7 linked regions of the Homo sapiens genome follow. The protein of the gene in region 7 purifies or fractionates together with the protein of the main gene of each other region. This does not show direct contact. Each region holds a gene or a part of one and is shown on either strand. Other genes may lie near its edges.

What was found.
Region 1: the proteins of GPR183 (region 7) and CWC22 purify together in Homo sapiens (affinity purification with mass spectrometry; 3 studies listed by BioGRID and IntAct, with this or other methods). This does not show direct contact.
Region 2: the proteins of GPR183 (region 7) and NRXN3 purify together in Homo sapiens (affinity purification with mass spectrometry; 3 studies listed by BioGRID and IntAct, with this or other methods). This does not show direct contact.
Region 3: the proteins of GPR183 (region 7) and TSHZ3 purify together in Homo sapiens (affinity purification with mass spectrometry; 3 studies listed by BioGRID and IntAct, with this or other methods). This does not show direct contact.
Region 4: the proteins of GPR183 (region 7) and EIF2B3 purify together in Homo sapiens (affinity purification with mass spectrometry; 3 studies listed by BioGRID and IntAct, with this or other methods). This does not show direct contact.
Region 5: the proteins of GPR183 (region 7) and EIF2B1 purify together in Homo sapiens (affinity purification with mass spectrometry; 3 studies listed by BioGRID and IntAct, with this or other methods). This does not show direct contact.
Region 6: the proteins of GPR183 (region 7) and GPC1 purify together in Homo sapiens (affinity purification with mass spectrometry; 3 studies listed by BioGRID and IntAct, with this or other methods). This does not show direct contact.

What each region holds. Positions count from the first base shown.
Region 1 is NC_000002.12:179,969,298-179,972,797, forward strand, and holds part of CWC22 (pre-mRNA-splicing factor CWC22 homolog), read right to left. Parts: intron 1,780-3,500; coding exon 1,644-1,779; intron 1,560-1,643; coding exon 1,353-1,559; intron 1,267-1,352; coding exon 1,204-1,266; intron 1-1,203. UniProt on the Homo sapiens protein: Required for pre-mRNA splicing as component of the spliceosome. As a component of the minor spliceosome, involved in the splicing of U12-type introns in pre-mRNAs. Promotes exon-junction complex (EJC) assembly.
Region 2 is NC_000014.9:78,705,373-78,708,872, reverse strand, and holds part of NRXN3 (neurexin 3), read right to left. Parts: intron 92-3,500; exon of another isoform or gene 1-91. UniProt on the Homo sapiens protein: Neuronal cell surface protein that may be involved in cell recognition and cell adhesion. May mediate intracellular signaling. Functions as part of a trans-synaptic complex by binding to cerebellins and postsynaptic GRID1.
Region 3 is NC_000019.10:31,279,937-31,283,436, forward strand, and holds part of TSHZ3 (teashirt homolog 3), read right to left. Parts: intron 1-3,500. UniProt on the Homo sapiens protein: Transcriptional regulator involved in developmental processes. Functions in association with APBB1, SET and HDAC factors as a transcriptional repressor, that inhibits the expression of CASP4.
Region 4 is NC_000001.11:44,882,096-44,885,595, forward strand, and holds part of EIF2B3 (translation initiation factor eIF2B subunit gamma), read right to left. Parts: intron 1-3,500. UniProt on the Homo sapiens protein: Acts as a component of the translation initiation factor 2B (eIF2B) complex, which catalyzes the exchange of GDP for GTP on the eukaryotic initiation factor 2 (eIF2) complex gamma subunit.
Region 5 is NC_000012.12:123,627,187-123,630,686, forward strand, and holds part of EIF2B1 (translation initiation factor eIF2B subunit alpha), read right to left. Parts: intron 3,348-3,500; coding exon 3,211-3,347; intron 3,100-3,210; coding exon 2,983-3,099; intron 1-2,982.
Region 6 is NC_000002.12:240,442,163-240,445,662, reverse strand, and holds part of GPC1 (glypican-1 precursor), read right to left. Parts: intron 1-3,500. UniProt on the Homo sapiens protein: Cell surface proteoglycan that bears heparan sulfate. Binds, via the heparan sulfate side chains, alpha-4 (V) collagen and participates in Schwann cell myelination.
Region 7 is NC_000013.11:99,300,900-99,304,399, forward strand, and holds part of GPR183 (G-protein coupled receptor 183), read right to left. Parts: intron 1-3,500. UniProt on the Homo sapiens protein: G-protein coupled receptor expressed in lymphocytes that acts as a chemotactic receptor for B-cells, T-cells, splenic dendritic cells, monocytes/macrophages and astrocytes.

The sequences.
Region 1 (3,500 bases), on a different chromosome or scaffold from region 7:
AAATGAAATTATAACAGAAAAAAAGAATCTGGCATATTACAGTGAAAAGCTCCTAGGAAATCAGCATCTAAGAAGAGAAACTCATTATTATAACAGGTTTTTAGGATAATGCAGAGGAATGGAAGATTTCTCCCAATTTTACTTTTCATTTCAACCTTCTACTTCTAAGCACTACTGAACAATGGAATGCAGACAGAGACAGAGTTCTAGGTTTCTGCTTTCTCTGTATATGAGACTACATAAGGCTGGTCTTTATGTTAAAAGCAAACAAATGACAAAAACTAAAATTACATTTTGCCCAATGGTGCTGTTAGCCTGATAAAAGATTTTGCAAAGCTAACCAACTCTTTACATTTCTATTATAATCAGAGAGCTTTTAATACAAACTTTTGGGGTTTAATACAAAGGTAAATTTTATTGCTTCCACAGCAATAAATACTTCTCCAGTAAAATTACAACTCAAGAGAAATAAGCCCATAAAATTATTATGTAAGTAGGCCTGAGTGTTAGCTTTAGGAGGAAAATAATACAAATGTGAAAATAGTAACTAATAATAGCTATCATTGTAGGTGATAATACACAACACTGTGTTTTATATATCCTTCCATAGAAAGGTAACATTTAGTCTTCCAACAAACAAGTAACTTGCTACAGGTCACTCAGCTAGTAATGTCAAAGATAAATTACACATCAAAACCTGTCCAAAGTTAGTACTTACAATATACCAATGATGTACAAATGAAAATGATCAATTTATTTTATCAGAGAGGCACCAATACTATGATTCATCCTACCAGAAGGATATTAACCTGACCTCAAGAAACAATAAAGTATAGCACTTTACAATAAAGTATACCACTTAATTGAATACTAAACTGGGTGGCACAGAATGTAAATGGTAGAGAAGCTAAATAAAGGCCACCACTAATCTATGAATATTTCTTAAGATGGGTGAGACGTAAGTGTTGCATAGTTTAGAGGGAAAGAGGAAAGAACAATGGGGTAAGTAATTCAGAATGAAGTAAAAAACCCTGGGCAAGCACCAGGAAAAAAATAATGCCCGAGGAAACAGCTAAGAGAATAACTTTATAAGAGCAGCGATTCATTAGGTGGGGATCTCTAAATATTTGCTATCAGTATTACGTAACTACTTAAATTGCTTCTACTTATCCAAACTAAATTATTTTATAAAATTTTACATACCTTTCTTAATAGCTTTGTACTTCTCTTCATTCTCCATAAAATTAGGATCCATCTTGAAAACATCTAAAAAAAATGTAAAAGTTAATGTTTATTTTCTATATTTACATTTGTTGGTAAGCCTCTTTCCAACTAACATGCCCCGGACTTACTAAGAACATCTTCTGGATTATAGTCATCCTCCAGAGGGAGCATATGAGTGAATTGATCATCTTCTTCCACCAAATCAAGACCTTCTAGGATAATGGGGTGGTCCTTGAATCCATCTTTCCGTACAGCAAACATCACTTCAATCATATATTGAACTCTTTTGTCAATTTCAGACTCATGCAGAATGTTTCGAAGGCGTTCAAATATAGCTAAAAGTTAACAGAAAGAAAAGACAATAAAATAAGCAATAAATATAATAAAAACTTAACATCAAACTATGAATGTACACTTACCATTGATTCCTCTTGGTGACACTTGTGTTAATTTGAGGCCACATTCCTTAAGAAAACCAATAGCTACTTCAACGCTATCATCTGTTGGTCTTTCCAGGAGCAAAGTGAGCATCTCTAAGCATAATACTTCGTGTGCCTTAAATAAAATACATATACAAGGAAGAAACAAAATGCTTTTACATACATTAAATTATTTTTATAATTTCTAAAAATTAGTAAATCTGTTTACAATAATTATATTGCACATATGATGGGCAAAGTTTTATAAAGCACATGGAAATACTCCAAATATGGGATACAATTTTTCTATCACTTTTATTATCTGTCTACTAAGAATTTTCAGATGACTGTTTCAAAAATCTTAATTTTCTATGCTGAATACAACTATTTGAATTATCTTCAGAAGAAATATTCTTAGCCATTATGTACGGAAAGTGTCATAGATAAAATATGTTAAAAATCATATACTACTTTCTAATAAGGTAATTATTTTCATAATTACTACATAAGAAATAGTAATATGATTTATAATACCCTTCTCCATGATCACAATTCTTTATATACATTTCCCAATTCATTCTATCAGCAACTCTATTAGACACAAATAGTCCTTAAGTTACATGAATACTAATTTTATCACAAAATATCTTAACAACTTCTGGAACACAACAGTTTTGAATAGTCTATCTTTTTTTAAAAAATTAAATCAAACTATTACTGGCCACGTTCAAAAACTGACATTTATAAACAATGCCAGGAAGAGTGGGAATAAAATTCTATTGAGAAGTTTGCTAAGAGAAGAAAACGAACAACAAAGAATGTTTAAAACACCATACATATGCCTTTCTAAAGTCAGACAGTGATTTAAGATGGTGAGGAAAGAAGTCTAAATCTCAACTCAGGAGATATCTTCTTCCAGCTGTGCACAACATCAAAGACACCCACTACTTCTTTTTACTAGGGGAGGAGGGGTGTCAAACAGTCTTAGGTCAGTGACAAGAAAATACTGCCCTGTACCACAGCTGGAAGATGCAAAAAATTTATCATATCGAGTGTTTCATGGCAATGCCAAAAATCTCTAGTCTAAGTGTAATACACATTTAAAAACGGAAATATATCTCTGGTTACAGATGTGAAATTAAGTTTCCATGGTCTTAAGTAGCAAGTTATCACTGTAATAATATGATGACTAATTAGGTCAAAATCTAAAAGATTTGTAAGAGTGAAAGAATTTTCATGTAAATAAGAATCAAAATATTTAATATTAGTGAAATAAGACTAAGCATGACTTTAAAATTCTTCCTGTTATACATGATATTAAATTGGAAATGATAATATATATCTGAAGGAAACTTTTGAGTATGAGCAAGGACAATTTTAGCATTTTCATGGTTAAATAAAAGCTAAATCAAAACCATCAAATAATGAATATAAAATAAACACAAACTGAATAACAGCATGATAAAATTACCTGCATTTGAAACAGATTAAAATCGATCAACTCTATTCTATCAAGTGATTCTAAAAATATATGACTATACCTGTGTGGTTGCAAGGAATAGAGGTTTTTGTAGAATATCAGATATTTATTAGATTCTCATGAACAGCAGGGAATGAAGTGGAGGAGATACCAACTTTATTGTTTTATAAAAATGAAGGGAATGGTTCTTCAAAGGAATGGTTTGCAGTCAAGTAACCATGTACAGTATTAAGTCAGATTAATTTGATAAATATCTAAAGTGTTTTGATCAGCATCAAAGTGTTATATTAAAGAATATTAAATATGGCCAGGCGTGGTGGCTCACACCTGTAATCTCAACACTTTGGGAGGCCGAGGCTGGTGGATCACGAGTTCAG
Region 2 (3,500 bases), on a different chromosome or scaffold from region 7:
CCTTAGTAAAATACCAGAAACAACCTAAATGACCATCAATAGCAGATGGCACAGCGTTATAATGGAATATTAGGCAGGCCTTGCAAACAAGGTATTGCTTTTGGTTTTGATGTGGAAGCTCTCCAGGTCACATTGTTAAGTGAAATTGTCAAGGAACAGGATAGAGGGTGCATTATGTTATCATTGTGTAAAAGTGTGGGGGCGTGGGGGCATTATATGTATATATGCTCCAGTAAGCATAAAGTCTCTTTGGAACTATAAAATTGTCATTGGGGAGTATATTTGCGGGATTAATATTCTGGAGTGGGAGGGTGACTTACTTTTCACTGTGCCCTCTTACAGTGTTAGACTTTTTTTCAACCATGTGGATATATTACTTGAAAGAAAAGAGTAAGTGTTAAAAGCTGGTGGGGACAGAGGTCTGTTTTTGTTTTTATTTTTTGCACATTGCATGTGCCCTCTGTACAGTGGTAGAATGAGACACCCTGAAGCCCTATTTCAGCCAGTCAGTCAAGGACATTGATTTAGTTGAGAGTCTGATTTTACAAAGAATACTGAACCAGATACTAATTCACCTTGCAAGGGGGTCCAGCAGAGCTTTCTGCCTCCATGCCCTACCCAAGGTTAGTGTACACTTCTGCAAAGCCATGGCCACTGTCCTGCAGAGTGGGTAGGTAGGTGGAGAACGTGAGGATGGCAGTTAAAAAAATCTGTTATGACTGTCTAACAGCCACTATGGAAAACAGTGTGGAGATCCCTTAAAGAACTAAAAGTAGAACTACCATTTGATCCAGCAATCCCACTACTGGGTATCTACCCAGAGGAAAAGAAGTCATTATAAGAAAAAGATACTTGCACAGGCATGTGTATAGCAGCACAATTTCCAATTGCAAAATTGTGGAACCAACCCAAACGTTCATCAATCAACAAGTGGATCAAGAAAATGTGATATATATATATGAATACTACTCAGCCATAAAAAGGAATGAATTAATGGCATTTGCAGTGACCTGGATAAGACTGGAAACTATTATTCTAAGTGAAGTAACTCAGGAATGGAAAACCGAACATTGTATGTTCTCACTGATATGTGGGAGCTAAGCTATGAAGACGCAAAGGCATAAGAATGATACATGGACTTTGGGGACTTGAGGGGAAGGGTGTGATGAGGGTGAGGAATAAAAGACTACAAATAGGGTGCAGTGTATACTGCTTGGGTGATGAGTGCACCAAAATCGCACAAATAACCACTTAAGAACTTATTCATGTAACCAAACACCACCTGAACCCCAATAACCTATGGGAAAAAAATCTGTTATGACTTTCTAAACCAGGTATAATCCATCTAAAAGCAGAAATTAATCTTTCTCCATGAAATTAGAATTTCAAAAAAGTTTTACTCTTATTTGAACTGAAATTTGATACAGTACCCTGGAATGGTTTTTGGCGCTCTGATCTCTGAGCAATGTCGTATCCATAAAAACTTAATAAGCAGAAAACAATGGAAGGGAAATAGACAAGGATCTGAGTATTGAGCGTCCCAACTATTTTCCTATTTTCTTTATATTACCTTATTCAAATTCTAAGTCAGGACCCAGATTTAGGTTTGAATTCCACATTTACTACTTACAAGCTATGTGACTTTGGCAAAGTAAATTTTCTGAGTCTGTTTCCTCTCCTGAAATTGGGAACATAGGAATAAACAAACTATTTATTTTGTAATAATAAAATGATTTAAAACATGTGAAGCACTTAGGAATGCAATATCATAAGGGCACAAAAGTCGCAGCTATTTGGAGGGTTATTGTTAATCTCATTTCGCTATTTCCACAGCCCTGAAAAGGTTGCATTATCATCTCCAAAACAACAATGGCTAATTTCTAAAATAAGCCTCATCTGTCCATATCTGTGAGACAAAGTTAATTGGATGGGTCACTCCAGCACATATCATATAATCCCCAATATTTAAATGTAGAATTAGTTCCCATCTCTCATCACCAGGAGAGAATCAAGCAAAGCTGTTTGCATTCTAATGGATATTACAAGAGTGATATATAACTATGGCGAAGCATTGAAAATGACTCACTATTATGTAACCTTGACCGTGGACCTAACCATAGTCAATAACATTGAAAATAATGATACTAACACTTATTAAGCACCTACCACCAGGCACCATGGTAAGGATTTAACACCTCTCCATCCCATTAGATACAGACAACACCCATTTGAGATACCTGTAATCATTGCCTTATTTTACAGATGCAGAAACAGACACAGAGAGCAGTTAGGGAACCGGCCCACAGGCACACAGCTGATAAGTGGCAGAGCAGGACTTGAACCTAGGCATTTGGGCCCCAGGGTCCATATGCTCAGAACCAGGCCCCACTAGCAGCACCTGTGAGGCTTATCTTTAACATTACATGGAAAGTCATGCATGCTCAACTTCACAATTCAAAAGCTGAATTTTTCATTTTAGCTAAACTGGGCTGACCATGTGCAAAGGGAAATATTGCAGGATCCTCAGGCAATCACTCAAGTGAGTAAACCAGAAAAGAAATCATAAAAGTTTAATGAGTGTCAGCTTCTCCTTTCTAACCTTCACTATTATACCTTAGCATGTGAGAACTCTTTGTCATAAACAAACTTTGGCTTTTTCTGCATTTGGGTTAAATGCCTGTGACTAGAGTTCCTAGTAAAGGTTAATTATTAATGTATAACAATAGGTCATCCCAAAGGGACAGAAGGAGGTTTGGCTCCATGGAACAATAAATAGAAAGAGAGATCAGGCATTGCTACAGCAGGCTGGGGACAGAATAAAAAGGAGGGAAAAAAAAGCCTTTTAACAAGATACAAGAGCAGTGAAGAGGAACTCTTCTGTGAGAAGGGTACCTAACTGAGACTGGGAGAGAAGGTGAATAGCCGGAATGAAGATTTCTGAAGACATAGGTAAGAGAAGCAAGGGCCAGAAACTGGCCAGACAGAGATAACCAGACTTCTCTCAAAGGCTCTTTGAGGGTGAGTGCTCTATCTACTCCATGGCCCTGAAATTACCTGTCTATTTATATGGAGTTTTCACTGTTGTGAATAAAAAGCCAACACCACTCTCACTGACAGCTGAATAACCCTTCTGAGTCCCATTTTATTTATTCCAAAGGTAAGAGCCTCGATATCTGTTCCACAAACTGTCCCTCTTTCCCAGCTCACAGGGCTGTTGTCAAGATCAAGTGGGATGTTAGACATAGTAGGACACAGACAATTCTAAACCGGCACACAAACCTAGGAAGAAATAATCCTATATCTTCATCTCCCATGGTGTTGGGGTTCTGTTGGAAATGGATAGGGTCCTGAATTGAGGTTCTGTGAAGGTTTATCTACCAAGAGGAAAAGGACAGGAGGGCAAGGGACTTGTAGCCCAGTGATGCTCAACTGGGACTCTCCATTGTTAATATCTTCACCTTCCCCACCTGCTCTGTGCAGAACCACAGCCACAGCCACGC
Region 3 (3,500 bases), on a different chromosome or scaffold from region 7:
GTGGTGTTTCTTTGGAGCAAAAAAAAAAAAAAATCTGCTCTTCAAACATAATTTGCCACCTTATTCTTCTCAAGGGGCAACAGCTTGAAATTAAAACTAAATTTGAAATTAATGAAGCACATTCTGGAGGTGGCATTCATTTCTAAAGTAATAAATTACTTGTATCAACCTCAGAGACAGCAGTTCCTGTCTGTCAATTAATATGTCTTATGCTTCTCCTACCCCTAATGCATTTCTTAACAGACAGATTCACAATTTAAATTAAGCAAGCATTTTTTACTCATTACATTTTTGAGGCTCAATCTTTAATAAATATAAAGTATAAAAACATCAATAAAATTTTTACCAAGTAAAAAGAAAAGTACGTCCATTGTAATAAGGGAAAAACAAGATTTTGTGGCTTTTTTTTTTTCTTTCTTCCTTCTGGAAAAGCAGGTCTCAGAAAAGCTTAGAGGTAGGTTTCCTGGCAGGGATAGGTGTGGGTTCGTTCCAGTTGAGAGGAAATACCCTGACCAGCTACCACCCAGCCCCCAGCCCTGTCCCCCATGTGAACACTCAGCCGTTCTCAGCCACCTGTGCACACACACTCTCCATGCAGAATTATGTCACAACAAGTTCAGGAAAATTGGTATGCGGTGCTCATTCCTGATGTATAAATATATACAAGACCTTCCAGTGGACCTTACAAATGTCAAAGTGTTTGCTCTTTAGACTACTTTGTCAATATTTACTCAGTATAAGCTTCATGGGCATCCAACAGAGATCCTGTCTTTCTGGAAGCGATGTAACTGGGATGTAAATCCAGCATGCATTCCCACGCAGGTGGAGGGCAGGCCACGCGCCTGCAGGTTCTGGAAGATGCACGTCCAGAGACACAGAGCCCAGAGAATACTTGCGTTAATGCAACAGGGTGTTTTTTTTGTTTTTGTTTTTGTTTTCATTCTCTTGCATTCGGTGACTTGGGTTATTCCTTACTAAACTGATCTGCCACTGCATACTGCATCAGGGTAGTTTTTTGGACAGTGAGGAGTGGCCAGCCCTGTGGCTAGGAACAATTTCAAGGTAAAGGAAAAGGAGAAATAAAGTGACTTTGTCCTGTCAGCTTCTAAATACTTGTTTGCTTCAAAAGGCCAGTGGGGAAGTGTGTTAAGTGGTTGGAACGTTGCAGTGCTAATTGCAAGGCTGATTTCTACAAAAAGCTCTTAAGAAAGGAAGGGAAGTTTTGTTTGTGGAATTGACTCCACCAGCTTTAAAGATTTGCCCCTGTTCCATTTCACATCAGAAAACCAACAACAACAATAAACAAACAAACAAACAAAAACAGTGAAATGAGTCCCTTGAAGTCAAGCAGATAGGCCCCCCTCATTCCTTCCAGGACAGGTGTGATTCTTTTGCTCCTAAGCCCCCTACTTTGAGTGCCAAGATTCCTAAGCCAAGACACATGGAATCCCAACACTGATGTAATGTGAACTTGGATGGGAACTGCCCCAGGTACACACATCAGCTGCAGGGAGGGGGATACTTCTGCTCATTTGCCAACTACTAAGCAAGAGTCTTGTCCAGGAGCCATGGATGTTCTTTACAAATGACCAGAAGAGAGTGCCCTGCTGCAGTCAGCTGAGTGTGAAGTGCTGTGGGGAACCTCAAGTTTAAGGCCATGCACTTTGAGATGACAAATAAAGACAGCAAAAGCTCTGTTCCTAGGGCCAAGACCAAATGCTTAGGGAAATACGGCGCTGGCCAATGGAGGCTCCTGTGCTAGCCACAGTGAAGACTGTGAATGCATGTGTTGGAAAAGAATAGGAAAAGAAAAAGAAAAGAAGACATCTCACTCTCCCTCACCTGCCCCCCGACAGACTTCCTCGGCATGCAGCACATTCTAGAAATCTGGACTCAAAACTCCAATGGAGTGGCAGGCCTGGAGGAAGAACAGCCGAGGTAGAATAACCAAGTGTCCCAATTTGCCTGGAGCTGTCCTGGTTTCAGCACTGAATGTCTTGCATCCTGGGAATTTACTCAGTCTTATGCAAACTGAAGGATGGCTTGTTACCCTAGCTGGGGCACACAGTATGACTGAGGTCAGAGCATCCAGGTGGGTCTGCAACCTCTCTTATAATCCTCTCGGGGAACAGCTGGAGCAGAGTAGGCTGGGTTTAGCTAGACACAGCCCACTGTCTGCAGAAGTGCACCGGGTGCATGCATATATGATGTTTCCATAGTACGGTTTTATTGTAAACGGGGAAAGAGGAGGAAATCCCATGGCTGGTGTCCCTCCCACTGAGACTCAAGGAAATGCCCAGGCCTGTGTAGATGGGTGAAGATATCAAAGCCCCTTCTGTCCTGGAGATGCCTCTTGGAGCCACAGTCTGCAATACAAACCCCACACCCTGGGGATTTTGCTCCTATTACAGTGGCTCCCATGAAATTAAGTCTGAGAGAGAAATGGCCCCACAGCAGCCACTACGAGAGGACACCAGCAGCCAGAAGCAGCAGAGCCAATAGTGGACATGAAAGAGTCCTCTGTGGGTGAAGGCCACCAGGTGAGAGGGAAACCCAGGGGCTCTGCCAGCCCACATTCCACCCAGGGGCAATGCATCTCCCCATGGCCAGAGCCTTCCCCACCCCCACTGCACAAGCACCAAACCAGCCCAGGCCGTCCGGAGCACCCCTCCCCAACACATGCACCATGAATGATATGACCAGCTCCTCTCCTGGGCTGGCCCACAACACGCTCTGATATGCTTTGTAAACTACACAGCAGGGTCAGAATGTCATCAGTCTGATGACTGAGGAGGAAATTAATATGGAAAGAAAAGGCCAACCTCTCAACCTCCCTGGTGGAACAAGATCCAACTCAGAGGAGAATTAAAAGGCTCTGGTGCCAAGCAGAACTGGGTCCTGGAGAGACCTGGCCTCACCGCACACCCCACTCCTGACCATGTCATGGTTTCTGAGGGTTCTTTCAAGCGCACACCCTCGTGGCTGTGACGTGGGCCTCACTCCCTGTTCAAATGACCATTTTCTTTTCCGATCTGAAGGTGAGAAGTATTTCCTTAGGTGGAGCCTAAGACTTTTACCCACTGGTTCTCCCCTCCACATTAAAATAAAGGGAAGGGCTGGGCGCAGTGGCTCATTCCTGTAATCCCAGCACTTTGGGAGGCCAAGGCAGGCAGACTGCCTGAGCTCAGGAGTTTGAGACCACCTTCGGCAACATGGTAAAACCCCATCTCTACTAAAATACAAAAAAATTAGCCAGACATGGTGGCACATGCCTGCAGTCCCAGTTACTCCAGAGGCTGAGGCAGGCGAATCACTTGAACCCGGAGGTGGAGGGTGCAAGTGAGCCATGACCCACCACTGCACTCTAGCCTGGGCAACAAAGCAAAATCCTATCTCCAAAAATAAATACATAAAAATAAAGGGAAAATTCCCATCTTCCACCATGCTTTGCAATAATTTCACTACTCTGAGAATATTTATACTCTTGATTACTGAACTTT
Region 4 (3,500 bases), on a different chromosome or scaffold from region 7:
TAGAATTTTATATTGCTAATTAATTTATGTAGCATTTACCAAGCATATGCGAGTTACTGTGCTAGGCCTTGGAAATACATCATTTCTGACTTCAAGGAATTCATAATCCAATGGACAGTAGCCTGTATGAGTTTAAGAGGAAAAGCAGAAGGTTAAGCTAATCAGGTAGGCAAGGGGGCCAGATCACGAAAGCTTTTTGTGGTGAAACCACCTTTGCAAAAATAACAGTGACAAAATTATGACAGTGAAAGAAATCTGACCTAATCAACTCCATCTTGCTGTTAACCTCCAAATTGCTCTTGCTCATTCCTGGACATAGGCTGAGCTAACTTTGGGAGAAAACTTTTTTTTTTTTTTTTCTGAGACAGGGTCTCACTCTGTCTGTTGCCCAGGCTGGAGTACAGTGGTGCGATCTCAGCTCACTGCAACCTTTGCCTCCCAGGTTCAAGTGATTCTCCCACCTCAGCCTCCTGAGTGGCTGGAAAGCTGGGATTACAGGTGTGAGAGCCACATGCCTGGCTAATTTTTTTTTTTTTTTTGAGACAGTCTTGCTCTATCGCCCAGGCTGGAGTGCAGTGGCATGATCTCAGCTCACTGCAACCTCTGCCTCCTGGGTTCAAGTGATTCTTGTGCTCCAGCCTCCCAAGTAGCTGGGACTACAGGCACATGCCACAATGCCTGGCTGTTTTTGTATTTTTTGGTAGGGATGGGGTTTTGCCATGTTGGCCAAGCTGGTCTCAAACTCCTGGCCTCAAGTGATCCGCCTGCTGCAGCCTCTTAAAGTGCTGGGATTACAGGCATGAGCCACTGTGCCTGACTTTTTTTTCTTTTTCTTTTTTTTTTTTTTTTTTTGAGATGGAGTCTCGCTCTGTGGCCCAGGCTGGAGTGTAGCGGTGCGATCTTGGCTTATCGCAACCTCCACCTCCCAGTTCAAGTGATTCTCCTGCCTCAGCCACCCAAGTAGCTGGGATTACAGGCGCCGGCCACCATGCCTGGCTAATTTTTGTATTTTGAGTAGAGATGGTGTCTCGTCATGTTGACCATCCTGAGGTCAGGAGTCTTGAACTCCTGACCTCAGGTGATCCGCTTGCTCCGGCCTCTCAACATGCTAGGATTACAGGTGTGAGCCACCATGCCTAGCCAGAAATTTATTACAGTTTATAGTTTAAATGATAATAGCCCTTCTCAAAATGAAACTGCCTTTATAAAACTAATAAAAGCGTACAAATTTAGGATTACAAGAGGGGCCTGAATTCTCATGATTACCAATCATTTTTCCAAAGGTCACAAGATTTGCAACTTCCCCAGTTACTCCTGTAAGTAACATCACTATTGTTGAACCTAAGATTGGCTTTTTAAGATGTCTTTTCTGACTTTTGCATTTCTGATGACTGGATGACTCCACTGGGACCAGTGACCCCTCTGTGGCCCCCATCCAAAACTGGGCTCAGCAGAGGACTGGTTTCCACACCCCTATGATTGCATCCCCAACCAATCAGCAGCACTCATTCCCTAGACCCCTGCCCACCAAACCATCCTTGAAAAACCCTAGCCTCAGAATTCTGGGGGAGGCTGATTTGAGTAATAATAAAATTCTGGTTTCCCGTTTAGCTGCCTCTATGTGTATTAAACTCTTTATTGCAATTCTCCCATCTTGATAAATCGTCTCTATCTCGGCAGCAGGTAAGATGAACCCACTGAGGAGTTACAGTAGCAGTCTAGAAAGTCTGGACTGAGAAGCCAGTGGTAATTTTTCCTTGTTAGACGGGGTCTTGCTCTGCTGCCCAGGCTGGAGTGCAGTGGTGCAATCACAACTCACTGCAGTCTTGACTACCTGGGCTCAAGTGATCCTCCTGCCTTGGCCTCCCAAGTAGCTGGGACCACAGGCATGTGCCACCATGCCCAGCTAATTTTTTTATTATTTGTAGAGGCAAAGTCTCACTATGTTGCCCAGGCTGGTCTTGAACTCCTGGACTCAAGCAGTCCTCCCACCTCAGCCTCCCAAAGTGCCGGGATTACAGGTGTGAGCCACCGCACCTGGCTGCCAGTGGTAGTTTTTAAGCAAGAAAGTGACATGAACAGTTTTATCTCTTATTAAGGTAATTCTGGTAGCAATGTGGAAGAAAGCCTGGAATAAGGAAACTGAAGAAAGGGAGACCAGTTACAATATTCTGAGAGATGAGATAATGAGGCCTGAGAGAGGGGTGAAAGTATGGGCAGCTCTATAAACCTGACTTGCTGCATACTTCCCACCACCTCTCCCAGCCCCCATTCAAAGCTCTGCATGCTGACACAAAACCAAACAGATGGAGTGTAGGTAGAAAGGAAGGCAAGACAGAGGCAGAGGCTGAGGAGGGTAAGGAAAACTATGAACCCTGGAGCTACACAGTTCATAGTTTCTGCAATTTTTAAAGAATCAATTTTGAAAAATTCTGTGTTAAGCTGTGAGCTCTTGTATTGAATTTCAATGTGATTTTTCTCCTGATCCTTTGATGAAGATTTAAAAATTTCCATGTGAATACAAAGAATGAAGCAACACTTACTCTTAGCTCTTTTTCTCCCCTTTTAATGCTTCAAACCAGTGTAGGCAGCAAATGTTCCTCCTCCATTGGAAAACAAGTCAGTTCCCTTTGAAGAAGTGACAAAGCACGGACAGCTAGGGGATTTCAGGGCCATGATATTTACATTACAGACCAAAAAGAACTGTCACTGCAAGAGGCAAGCAGACGAGCCTTGGCACATGGCCCCATCAGGCAGAACCTTCGAGAGGATCCATGATTTGAAGAGAGGCTATGAAACAGCCCTGCCAGGTCCCACCCACCTCTGCTGGAGCTCAACATTAGGTCAATCCCCATGATGCAGTTGACTTAGAAACATAATGAAGGAAACAATTACTCTTCCTGCTTCCTAGTTAAAGTGCAGGCAGCTCAGAGCTGTGCCAAGAAATGTTACAAAGCTACAGTGAACCATTGTGAACATCCTGGGCCTAGGCCACTTGCTGGATACAGTGCCCTGGTCAACCTTACTTTCTCCTTTCCCTCTTATACACAGCCTTCCTAGAAACACCTGTCTTATCTCATGAAATCATAAGCTCTTCTCAAGCAATCACAAAGGAGAACAATAGACTTGACTACTAGCAAACAATCCCACCAAATAAAAAGACAAAATAATTGCTATGAATAGGGCAAAGAATATTCTTAATAAACAGATATGTGTTAAAAAAACATATAAAATATTTTCAAAGAAGTAAAAAACTAAAATAAGATGCAATTTCTCCTCCAACTAAATTAACTGATTCAAAACAATTTTCATTACTGATAAGAGTGCTTTGAGAACCGTTACTGTCACATAATGGGAGTCGGAGTATAAACTGATAAAATCTCTGAAAAATAATTGGCAACATTATAGCAAAAGACTTGAAGATATTCATATAATTTCACCCTGTAATTCCATTTCTATAAGTCTATCCTAAGGAAAATATATTACTCAGTAAATATTTG
Region 5 (3,500 bases), on a different chromosome or scaffold from region 7:
CAGGCTCCTTGCTGCTCACTCACACCCTCTGCACTGCGGCACGTGTTCCCGACACCCTAAGCATCTCTGTACACTTTCTCACAAATCAACCACAACCAGAAAGGAGACCTGATGGTACAGTTTCCATCCCATGTGCAAGCTAAAAAAGTTTCTGCCAGGTCTCACATCCTGTAGCAGGTGCAGAAATGGAACTCCCACACAGTGTTACCCAAAGGATACAAAAGCCTGGATAGCTGAAGGCTCCATGAGGTTCCCTTGGGTTGGTTTTCCTATTTCTAAGACATGGTTTGCACACGCAGGCCTACAGGAACCAAGTAGGTAGCAGAAGTCACTGCAGCAGGTTGGGTGGGGCCAGCAGCAAAGCGAAAGGCTACAGAAGGCTGGGTGTGGTGGCTCACGCCTGTAATCCCAGCATTTTGGGAGGCCAAGGTGAGAGGACTGCCTGAGCCCAGGAGTTCAAAACCAGTCTGGGCAACTTGGCAAGACCTCATCTCTACAAAAAATAACAACAAAAAAAATTAGCTGGATGCAGTGGCATGTGCCTATAGTCCCAGCTACTTGGGAGGCCGAGGTGGGAGGATCACTTGAGCCTGGGAGGTTGAGGCTGCAGTGAGCCATAATCATGCCAGTGCACTCTAGTCTGGGCAAGAGAGTGAGACTCTGTCTCAAAAAGAAAAGGCTAAGGAGGGCCAGGACTCCTCAGCCCCAGCTGGCGTCATGTGGCCCCAAGATTGCCAGACCAGGTGATGTTTCAAAAATCCAATTTTGAAATGATGGCTAACTAATTTTTTTGAATTTATAAACACTGTTTGGGGTAATCACAACCTATCTGTGGCGTGGATGCAATGTGTAGACACTTAGACATAATCTGTTTTCTTTTCTTTCTTGAGCCAAGGTCTTGCTCTGATGCCTAGGCTGGAGTGCAGTGCAGTGTTCATGGCTCACTGTAGCCTCGACATCCTGGGCTCAAACGATCCTCCCACCTCAGCCACCCCAGTAGCTGGGACTACAGATGTGCGCCACTGTGACTAGCTAATTTATTTTATTTTTTGTAGAGACAGGGCCTCTCTCCCTATGTTGCTCAGGCTAGTGTTGAATTCCTGGCCTCAAGGGAACCTCCGGCTAGGATTATACACATAAGCCACCACAGTAGGCCCATAACCTCTTTTTTTTTTTTTTTTTTTTTTTTTGGTGAGACAGGATCTCACTCCAATTGCCCAGGCTGAAGTGCAGTGGTATGATCTCAGCTCACTGCAGCCTCAACTTCCTGGGTTCAGGTGATTCTCCCACCTGAGCCTCCCAAGTAGCTGGGACCACAGGAGTGTGCCACCACGCCTGGCTAACTTTTTGTATTTTTAGTAGAGATGAAGTTTTGCCATGTTGCCCGGGCTGGTCTTGAACTCCTGGACTCAAGCAATCTGCGTGTCTTGGCTTTCCAAAGTGCTGGGATTACAGGCATGAGCCACCATGCCCAGCCTCCATAACCTCTTTTCTATGGAAGAGTGCAGAAGACAGAATAAGACAAGGGGGCAGAACCAGCTCTCTAGCTCCTTTCTGGGTCTCACCTGAGAACCCGTTAGGAAGGCAGGTTCGTGGACCCTAGCCCAAACCCACTGAATCCCGATCTGCATTTAATAAGACCCCAGCTGACTCCTCTGCATGTGCAAATCTGAGCAGCTCTGCTATAAATTTTGTCTAAATCAGTCCTGAGTAGGTGACTGCAGGTAAAGTACATACATACCACACTACACTAGAGCAAACGAAACCCGCACAATACTGACGGCACAGCAGGTCTGTGGAAGGAGAAGGCCCCAGCGAGAGGAAGTCACAACCTTGCCTCCACTTGCCCAAAAAAGGCTTCGTTTGCAACTGGCTTTTCTACAAGTTTCACTCACATCTATTATGCCATTTATTTAATAACATACTTCAAAGGTTGGGAAGGGGCTAATAAAATGGAGGACAAGATTTAAGAGTCAAAATGCAAGTAAATGATTTTATGATCAGGGGAGGCCTAGGTGGCAAAAGGACGTATGCTGGTGGGAGGGGCATTATGATAGTTTCATTACACCTTTACTGGAAGATGGTTCAACTTGCACCTCCTGTCTTTCCTCACTTATAAACACTGCGTGGCTTTACATCTCTGTAATAGCATCTAAAATGAAGTTAAAAAGAAAATTTCCCTCAATTTCCCTCTATTGCTAACCTTCACTAAGAAAGTCCTCAGTGTTAACCAGTGACAAGAGCTGTTCTGTTAATTCAGATTTACTACACATACAATCATAAAAATACTTCTTTAGTAAAACACTGTATTAAATCAAGAATCAGGGCCAGGTGCGGTGGCTCACGCCTGTAATCCCAGCACTTTGGGAGGCCGAAGCGGGTGGATCACAAGGTCAGGAGATCGAGACCATCCTGGCTAACACAGTGAAACCCCGTCTCTACTAAAAATAAAAAAAATTAGCTGGGCTTGCTGGTGGGCACCTGTAGTCCCAGCTACTCGGGAGGCTGAGGCAGGAGAATGGTGTGAACCCAGGAGGCGGAGCTTGCAGTGAGCTGAGATCGCGCCACTGCACTCCAGCCTGGGTGACAGAGCAAGACTCCGTCTCAAAATAAATAAATAAATAAATAAAATAAATCAAGAATCACACGTGCTGTCCCACTGTCCCTCTCTGCCTGTTTACAATGACAACCATCTCTAATAACAAGACCTACATTCATGCAGCACTTACTAAGTGCCAGGCACAATACCAAGCCCTCACACCCCTTGCCCCTTACATGTCTTGCCTCATTTAATCCTCACAACAACCCAAGGAGGTAGGTACTATTGTCATCCTTATTTAACAGATGAGAAAGCTGCACAGACAGGTTAAGTTACTTGTTCAAGTCTCCACAGCAAGTGAGTGGCAGAGCCCGGATTTTACCCCAGGCAGTCGGACTCGAAACCGTTGCTCCTCCTTACCACCATGATGATTATCCACTCACCGCTCCATCTTTGATGAAAGTATGGCACAGATCTGCAATTTTGTTTCTTGACAGTGATATTCTCCTGAGAAAAAGTTCTCCCCGCTCAATCATGATCTTTTTACATTTGGAGTAATCCTAGGAAGAAAAGAGCAAACTGAGGGGACAGGGAAGATCCAGTTAATGCTGAGAATGTCTGTCACTAAACAGAGAAGTGGAAAGGTAACCCCAGGGAGAACAGGCACTTACGGAGTATTCCAGGGAGGCAAGACTGATGAAGCGGAGGAAGAGCTCCCCGCCAGAGGACACTGCCACAGAGGAGTCCACACCACACAGGGTTTCTATGGCACTGGTGAGATTCGCCCTCAGACCCTGGATTGTCTCCCCTGGAATGATCCAACAAGGAATGTGATGTTCACATTAGGGCCACAGCCCCGACCTGTATCTTCAATTCATTCATTCATTCAGTGAATATTTACTAGGTACATACTATATACCAGGCACTATTCTAGATGCTAGGGATACATCAGTGAACAAGA
Region 6 (3,500 bases), on a different chromosome or scaffold from region 7:
GAAGCCCATGAATTACATCCAGAACCTCATCCGTGCACCCACAGAAGGATGGATGCATCTAGAACAACCCTCCTGCATGCTGGTGTTTGGCCACCACAGTCTGCCCTTCCTCCCATCCCAGCACCTGGCGCTGAGTGGTGCCCCCTCCCCTGAGCTCCCTCTTCCCCTGGCGTGGTTCTGCCTATAGCTTCAGTTCAAGTATTTCTCTTGGGGGTGCTACTGGCGTTTGTGGAAGGGCACCTCCATCTTGCAGGATTACTGGGCTCCCTGGCCCCACCCACTAAACACCAGAGCACCCCCACTCCTCAATCACTGGGATGTCACAAGTGCCCAGGGCAACTGCTCCCGCTTGGGAGCCACCCTATCCCAGGGGACCTTCCCAGGTATCTGTCTGACCTGCAGCCACCCCTCACCCCAAATTGCCCACAGGATGAGGCCACGCACATAGAACAGGGAGGCACCTGTTCTAACACCTACCATCCTGGGTGTGAGGCCACAGGAGGGAGACTGAAGATGCTGAGCAGTGTTCTGTGTACAGCCCCCCGCCAGGCTCGGGGAGGGGGCATCGCGTTCAGGAACAGTGGGGCTGGATTACGTGAGAGACTTGTCCTTTTAAAATACCTCCTTGGGTCCAGTGTGTCCCAAGCTCCATGACAACTGGAGATGCATGTAAACGCCTGAGCCAACCCTGGTGGCAGGTGGCATCAGCTTTGTCCCCAGGGCCTGGTAGATGGTCACAGGTGGGTGGGATGCTCTCCCTGCAGTCTCCAGAGCCAAGGATGGGCCTCCTGGCCCCGGTTCTTGAGGAGACACTTGGACGTCACACATGGGTTACCACAGGGATGGGATCAGACAGCCACAGGGAGCCCCAGTCACCAAGGATGCGCCAGACACGGGTGGGCTGCGGGGTCCACAGTGGGCACTGAGGCTGCACCAGATGCAGGGACAGGCTGAGACGATCACCCATAGGCCACAGCTCTGTGACGCACTGGACAGCTGTCGTCGGTGTTTGGGGAAATCGTCTGAAGGTGCGCACAGGCCACAGACTTCCCTACAGGTCCCACTGCTGATGGCGCACCCAGGAAGCACCCCTGCCGGGGAGGCTAGGGATCCGGTCGCTGCTGCATGGGCCTAAGGCTTGGCTGTTCCCAGGAGGGAGACGTGCTGTTCTGGGCCTCAGAGCATCGGGGTCACTGCAGCCAGATCCATCACCCCAGGATGGACCAGCGGGTGAGGACGGGGCTCAGGATGGACAGTGCCGCAGGGTCCTGGGCGGCTGGATTTGGGAGTCCCCGGAAGCCCCAGCCAAGTTTCTCAGTAGAACCTGAACTTCTGTGGGGCGAGAGCAGAAGCCTAGCAGCGTTGTACTTCCTGGCCCGCCCAGCTCACCCTTGTCCCTCAGGAGGAGCCAGGACAGCAGGCGGGCATGTGGTGCCCACTGTGGGGCTGGCTCTGACCTCAGGAGACCCACCGGGCGTGGCGGCTGGGCTGGGCTGAGGCTGGCCGGGCCCTCCTGCGGTGTGTGTCCTCACATGGCCCCGACACGGAGCTGCAAAGAAGCCGGGCCGTGTTCACAGCCTCCCCTCCTGTGCGCTCCCGGTGCCCCTCAGGCCTCTGGGTGCCTGCACCTGCGGGGTAGTCTGTGGCCTTGGCCCAGCTCCCCATCCTCTGACCCAGCCTCACCCCTGCTAGCCAGGCCCAGAGCAGGAGTGAGTCACTCGGCAAGCAAGTGTGGGGCTTGGCCCCAGGCGGCGAGGCCTCTCAGCTCTGAGCCCTGGGAACCCCTCTCTGGGACTCAGCTTTCCCATCTGCAAACTAAGTGGTATTCAGCCCACCCGGTAGACAGCCCCTGGTGCTGCCGACTCTGGGAACTCCTGGGGCACCTCAAAGGTGGGAGAGGACCAGGGGAGGGAGGGCCTGGGGAAAGAGGGACCCTTCTCTCCCTGTCCACCGGCTGCGCCCCATCAAAGACCTTGAGAGCCCACCAGGAGGCCTAGTTCACAGATGCCGCTGGGCCTCACCTCCCACTGCCCCGTGCTGGGCTCAGGGTTTCTGCTTCCGAGTCGCCTGGCCTCAGGGATGATTTGCAGTGGCTCTGTGGCTGGCCCTCCTCCCCACCACAGCCCTGGGAGGTCTCCTCCTCCTGAAGGAGCAGGACAGGTGGAGCCCCTGGGTGGCTGCCCTGTCACCCTGCCAAGCCTGCAGGACCCAAGGGGCACTCAGCACAAGAGAGCAGCGGGCCTCCTCGGCCAGCCACCGCCTCAGGAGACAGCAGTGGTGCAGCCTCCTGGCCCCCAGGCCTCCCTCATCTCTACATCTCCAAACCCTCGCCCTGCAGTCCCACTGCCTCCCCGCCCAAAGTCCACCTGAAGGGCTCTGCCCCCTGACAAGTGGGAGACTGGGGCCTGTCCAAGGCACACTCACACCACTGAACCACGACTCTCCCAGCCTGGGCTCCCGCAACGCAACCTGGAGAAGGTTTTCAGGCCAGCCTGGCCACTGCCCCCCACCCCAGTTCTGTGACGGCACAGGCGGCGGCATCCTCAGCCACTGCTGTACCACTAGACCTGGAACATCACCTGAGTGGCCCGGCCCTGCCACCCGGACCTGAGGGAAAAGCGGAGGCCCACGGCAGGAGGGGCTGGCCAAGGACCCAGTAGCTGTGCAGGGCCTGACGCTGAGGCCTCCCAGGCTTGTGGGGACCAGGCTGTGCCCAGAGAGCGCCTCAGGTGGACGGGGGTGAGTGGCAGGCTGGGGCGTGGTCACTCCCTCACACTGTCACCAGGGTCTCGGGCACATCTGTGCTGAGCTCTAAGCCCATTACAGAAACACGGCCCAGTGCTCAGGAGGCCACAATCACAAAACACCCAGAGCCTCGGGGTCTTTGCCACCTGATGGGAAGATGTAGGTGTGCCGGGCTGGGCTAGCTCCCCACTACAGGCTAAACTGTACCCCCAAAACCCACATGGCTGAGGCCTAACCCCGATTCCTCAGGATGTGACTTTGGGTGTGGAGTCTGTGTGACACCTCTCGTTAAGAAGAGATGGTACCGGTGGGCCCTGACCCAATTAGAGTTGTGTCCTTGTGAAGAGGGGGAATTCGGAGACAGAAGCGCACACGGGGAGAGCGGCCTGTGGAGGCCAAGGTGGGATTTACCAGCCAAGGAACACCTGGAAGCTGGCAGTGTGGAGCAGACTTCCTCACGCCTCAGAAGGGGCCAGCCTGGTGGACGCACACTTGATCTCAGGCTTCCAGGCTCTAGAACCACGGACGACCCATGTCTGCAGCTGCAGCTGCTCAGCCTGTGGCACTGTTCCGACAGCCCTGGAAACACTTGTGCTCCCAACCCCGGCACCCAGCCCCACCCGGTACCGGGAGGGACTCGGGGCCTTCCCCACCCTGTGTGGAGCTCAGGCCTGCCCAGGCGGGGGCCCCGGCAACAGGGAGGGTACGTGTTGGCCGATGCCCGGGAAGTCAAGCTGTGGGGAAAGGCCGGAGGA
Region 7 (3,500 bases):
GGTAGAAAATTTATTCTTAAGTATATTTTAAGTATTTTACATTTTAATTATTAGGCAGCAGCTTCTGACATGTTATTTAAGATATATTTATATAAACTAAGGTATACTAGAAAGTATTATCATTTATCATTGTATTGCCTAGGGAAAAGCCCAAAGAAATGTTAGTTCTAAATCTTTTTTCTTTAGAACACTAATATCAGAATTATAGCTTCCTCATAATGCATTCTAATGAAAAGATGCACGTGGCCCCTCAGCCGTCCTTCGTGCTGCCCACACTGAGGGACAGGAGTCAGGACAGAGGCCTTTCCCTGGAGGGCATGGATAATGACTGGGCCACAGGAAGCCTGGATCCTTATTCAGGTTCCACCTGTGGAACAGGGCCCTGTCGGCCTTCAAGGCTCCTGTACCTTCTGCTGGGAGCCACCCTGGAAGCCATCTATGCCATTCTCTTATTTTTATTGGTAAACAAAGGAGACAATCCCAGTTTTGCCTCTGTAATGCAGTACTTGGTCCTTTTAACTTTACTGTTATCCTAACATGTGTAAAACAGTAAGTTTCTTCCTCAGCAAAATATCTTCCAAAGTATTTTTACTTATGCTTTGAGAAGTGAGCCTGTGTGTTTTTTTCTCTAGAATGTATTTCATTGCTAATAGAGTTGCTAACACTTCTTGAGATATTATCATCTCATTTTTGCATAACCGGACATGTTGACATGAACTGACAGGTTCTTTCTAGCCGCAAAAGGAAAAAAAAATAAAAGGCCCCCCAAAACTCATTTATTTAGCATCTAAGAAAATCCCTAGATACCCACTTGGAGGGATTTGTGATTTTTCACAGAGGACATGTACCTTCCATGGTCCTAATTTACTCGTTCAAGTAATTAAAGTGTTTTCTTAGCCTTTAATTTGGGCAGAAACAGAACAAAACCTTTACCATATTCGGGGATTTAGTTGGTGCTAGAATAACAGCTTTTGGTTTTTGCTGAAATGTCACCTTTGCCCTCTAATATTTATTTATTTTAATAATCATCAACACCTTGAATGAAAAGGGGCTTACCTAGGAATTCTGTTTAATTGTAGCCACTAGCAATGACTGGAATGGGTCAAGTTGTGCTGAGATGATCACCAATTGGAGGTGACTTCTCTGTAGGTCAAGTCTTCTCTAGAGTCAGCTTATACAGAGAGGTGACCTAAATCAATGTGCCCACAGTGGATGTACCAAAGAGGAACTTCCAGAAGCTCACTTTCAAAAACAGCCAGGGGAGCCACCCAGATGCAGCCACACAGATACTAATTATATGTGTATATTGTTAAGTGAGGAGTGTTTGATCTGATACACTGTCCTTGGCTACTTTGAGGAAAGGTTAAGACTGAGGAAAAATTTCTGGAGCAGGGAGAAATAAAATCATTGGAAAGGAGGGGGAAGATGAAAGCTCAGGGTTAATTGAAATTTCAAAGATATGGTTCTACTGAGGAAATAAAGATAAGCACAGATGTATCAGGATGGCAAGCTGGGGCTGTTTCAGCTCCCTTGAGAACAAACCTGCTCCAGGGAAGAAAGAAATCATTCATTACTTCTTCCTCTGGTTACCTGGTTTGATAAGTATTTGTCAATTATTTGAAAACGCCTTCTTGTTCAAACAGGGGCATCTAAATTTGGCCCAGTGTCACACATACTGGGTCCTAGCATTCAACTAGTGATTTTTCTCATCACCTTTTTCATTGACTAAACAGCCATCATCTGAGGGATTATGGGTGTTGTTTGCCTGTAAAATGGACAGTGGGAAACATGCATTCCTGGTGTGCAAGAGGAACCTGCACTGCTGTGGAGCTGTGACCAGCATAGTCAGAGCCTCCTGGTGCTTCATTAGTAAAGTCAAATTGTCCATTCTATTAATAATACGCTGCTAACCAACTGTCACAGTAGTCAGTACATGCCTCTGTGGCCTGGTTAAATACATCTTTGTACACTGTAAGGTGACTTTTTCCCAGCCAACTTTGAGTCCTAAATTGATAGCTATGTTTATGTCCATGATTCATTTTTTAGAAGGATTGAGAACAATGATATTCAGCATAGAGTTGACTGTGGTCCGTCTGTTTGGGGGACCTCCCCTGCCTCCTGGGGGCTTGCTTTCTGGCTTATGGAGTGTGACTAGCCGAGGGGCTTAGTAGAGGCAGCCTTATTGAGGAGCTCTGTGACCAGCCTGCCAACCCCATTGCATATCCTGGGTCAGACCAGCTCCCAATAGATCTGCGAAAGGCCATTTATAGGACCAAGTACAGAGAACTTCTTCAAGACAGAAAAAGACAGAAAAACATCTTCAAGACTGAAAAAGGGTTTAGCAGTCTACTGTTTCCTCTTTGTGCTTTATATGTGTCCTGAACCCAGTGGATGTGCAGCAAAGACCCACTTCGGCTTCATAGACGCGCTCCTTGGAAATGATGGAAAGGTGCTTGAGCACGGGAATTCTTTGGTTGAACACCCACTTGCACATTTGGGGTTTCACATATTCTAGTTATTTTCTTTCACCTTTCACTGGTAAAAGCCACCTATGTGGCTTTTGGTGGCTTTTATATTGAAAAGTATGGAAGTTATTGAAGATGAAGATGACATATGTTTAGAGAACTAAGAAACTAAGAATCCCACCATAATACTCATTTTAGTGTAAGAAAGATATTCTGTGTTTGTATCTGGCATGATTTGTAGGATGCAGCATGTGGGAAAACTGCATAATATAAAAAGGCTCTTTATAATGAAGCTCTGTGTCTATAATATTTCTCCTCTGAGTCCTGAATGTTTCTGGAAATAATATGTACCTTTTCTCTTTCAAGTTCAAGGAGTTTCAATTTTGTTTTTGTCTCTTATCAGATGGAAATTAGGGAGGAACATTAAATATCATTATTTTATGGATAAACTGAATTCCAGGTCAACTCGGTCATTCGCTCAGGGATCTTACTGTGGTACTCAAGGCAGGGGTCGTGAAGGCGCCCAGGACTCCGTGTTCTCCCTCACCTGCTGCCTCTGGTCAGCGAGCAGTCCCTGTGCCTCAGCCTTGTGCTCTGCTGCACATCCGTGTCTGTCTGTCTGCCTGTTGTGTGCCATTCCCGCCCTTCTGCCCGCAGCCACGGCAGCAGCTTCCCGCCAGGCTCTCAAACGGGGCCCATCCAACCCCAGGCAAACCACAAGCTCTGTGTCATGACACACAAGTTCCCTCATGATCTGAGCTCCATTCCTTCTTCAGGAGGGTTGCTGGTCAGCTTCCCCTGATCGTGGCCTGGCTCCAGGCATGCAAAATTACTTAGAACCTTTGGATATCCCACGTTCCCTCACAACTCTGTGCCCGGTAACATTCTTCCCTCTGTTTGATGTCCTCTGGCCCCTATCCTGTATCCTTAGCTCTTACTTTCCTTCAAGCCTTAGTTCTAAGTATCCCAGGAGCATTCCTGTTCTCCATCCTCTGAAAGGCAGTGTGGGTGTATTTGTGAGAGTGCTGTGCTCTG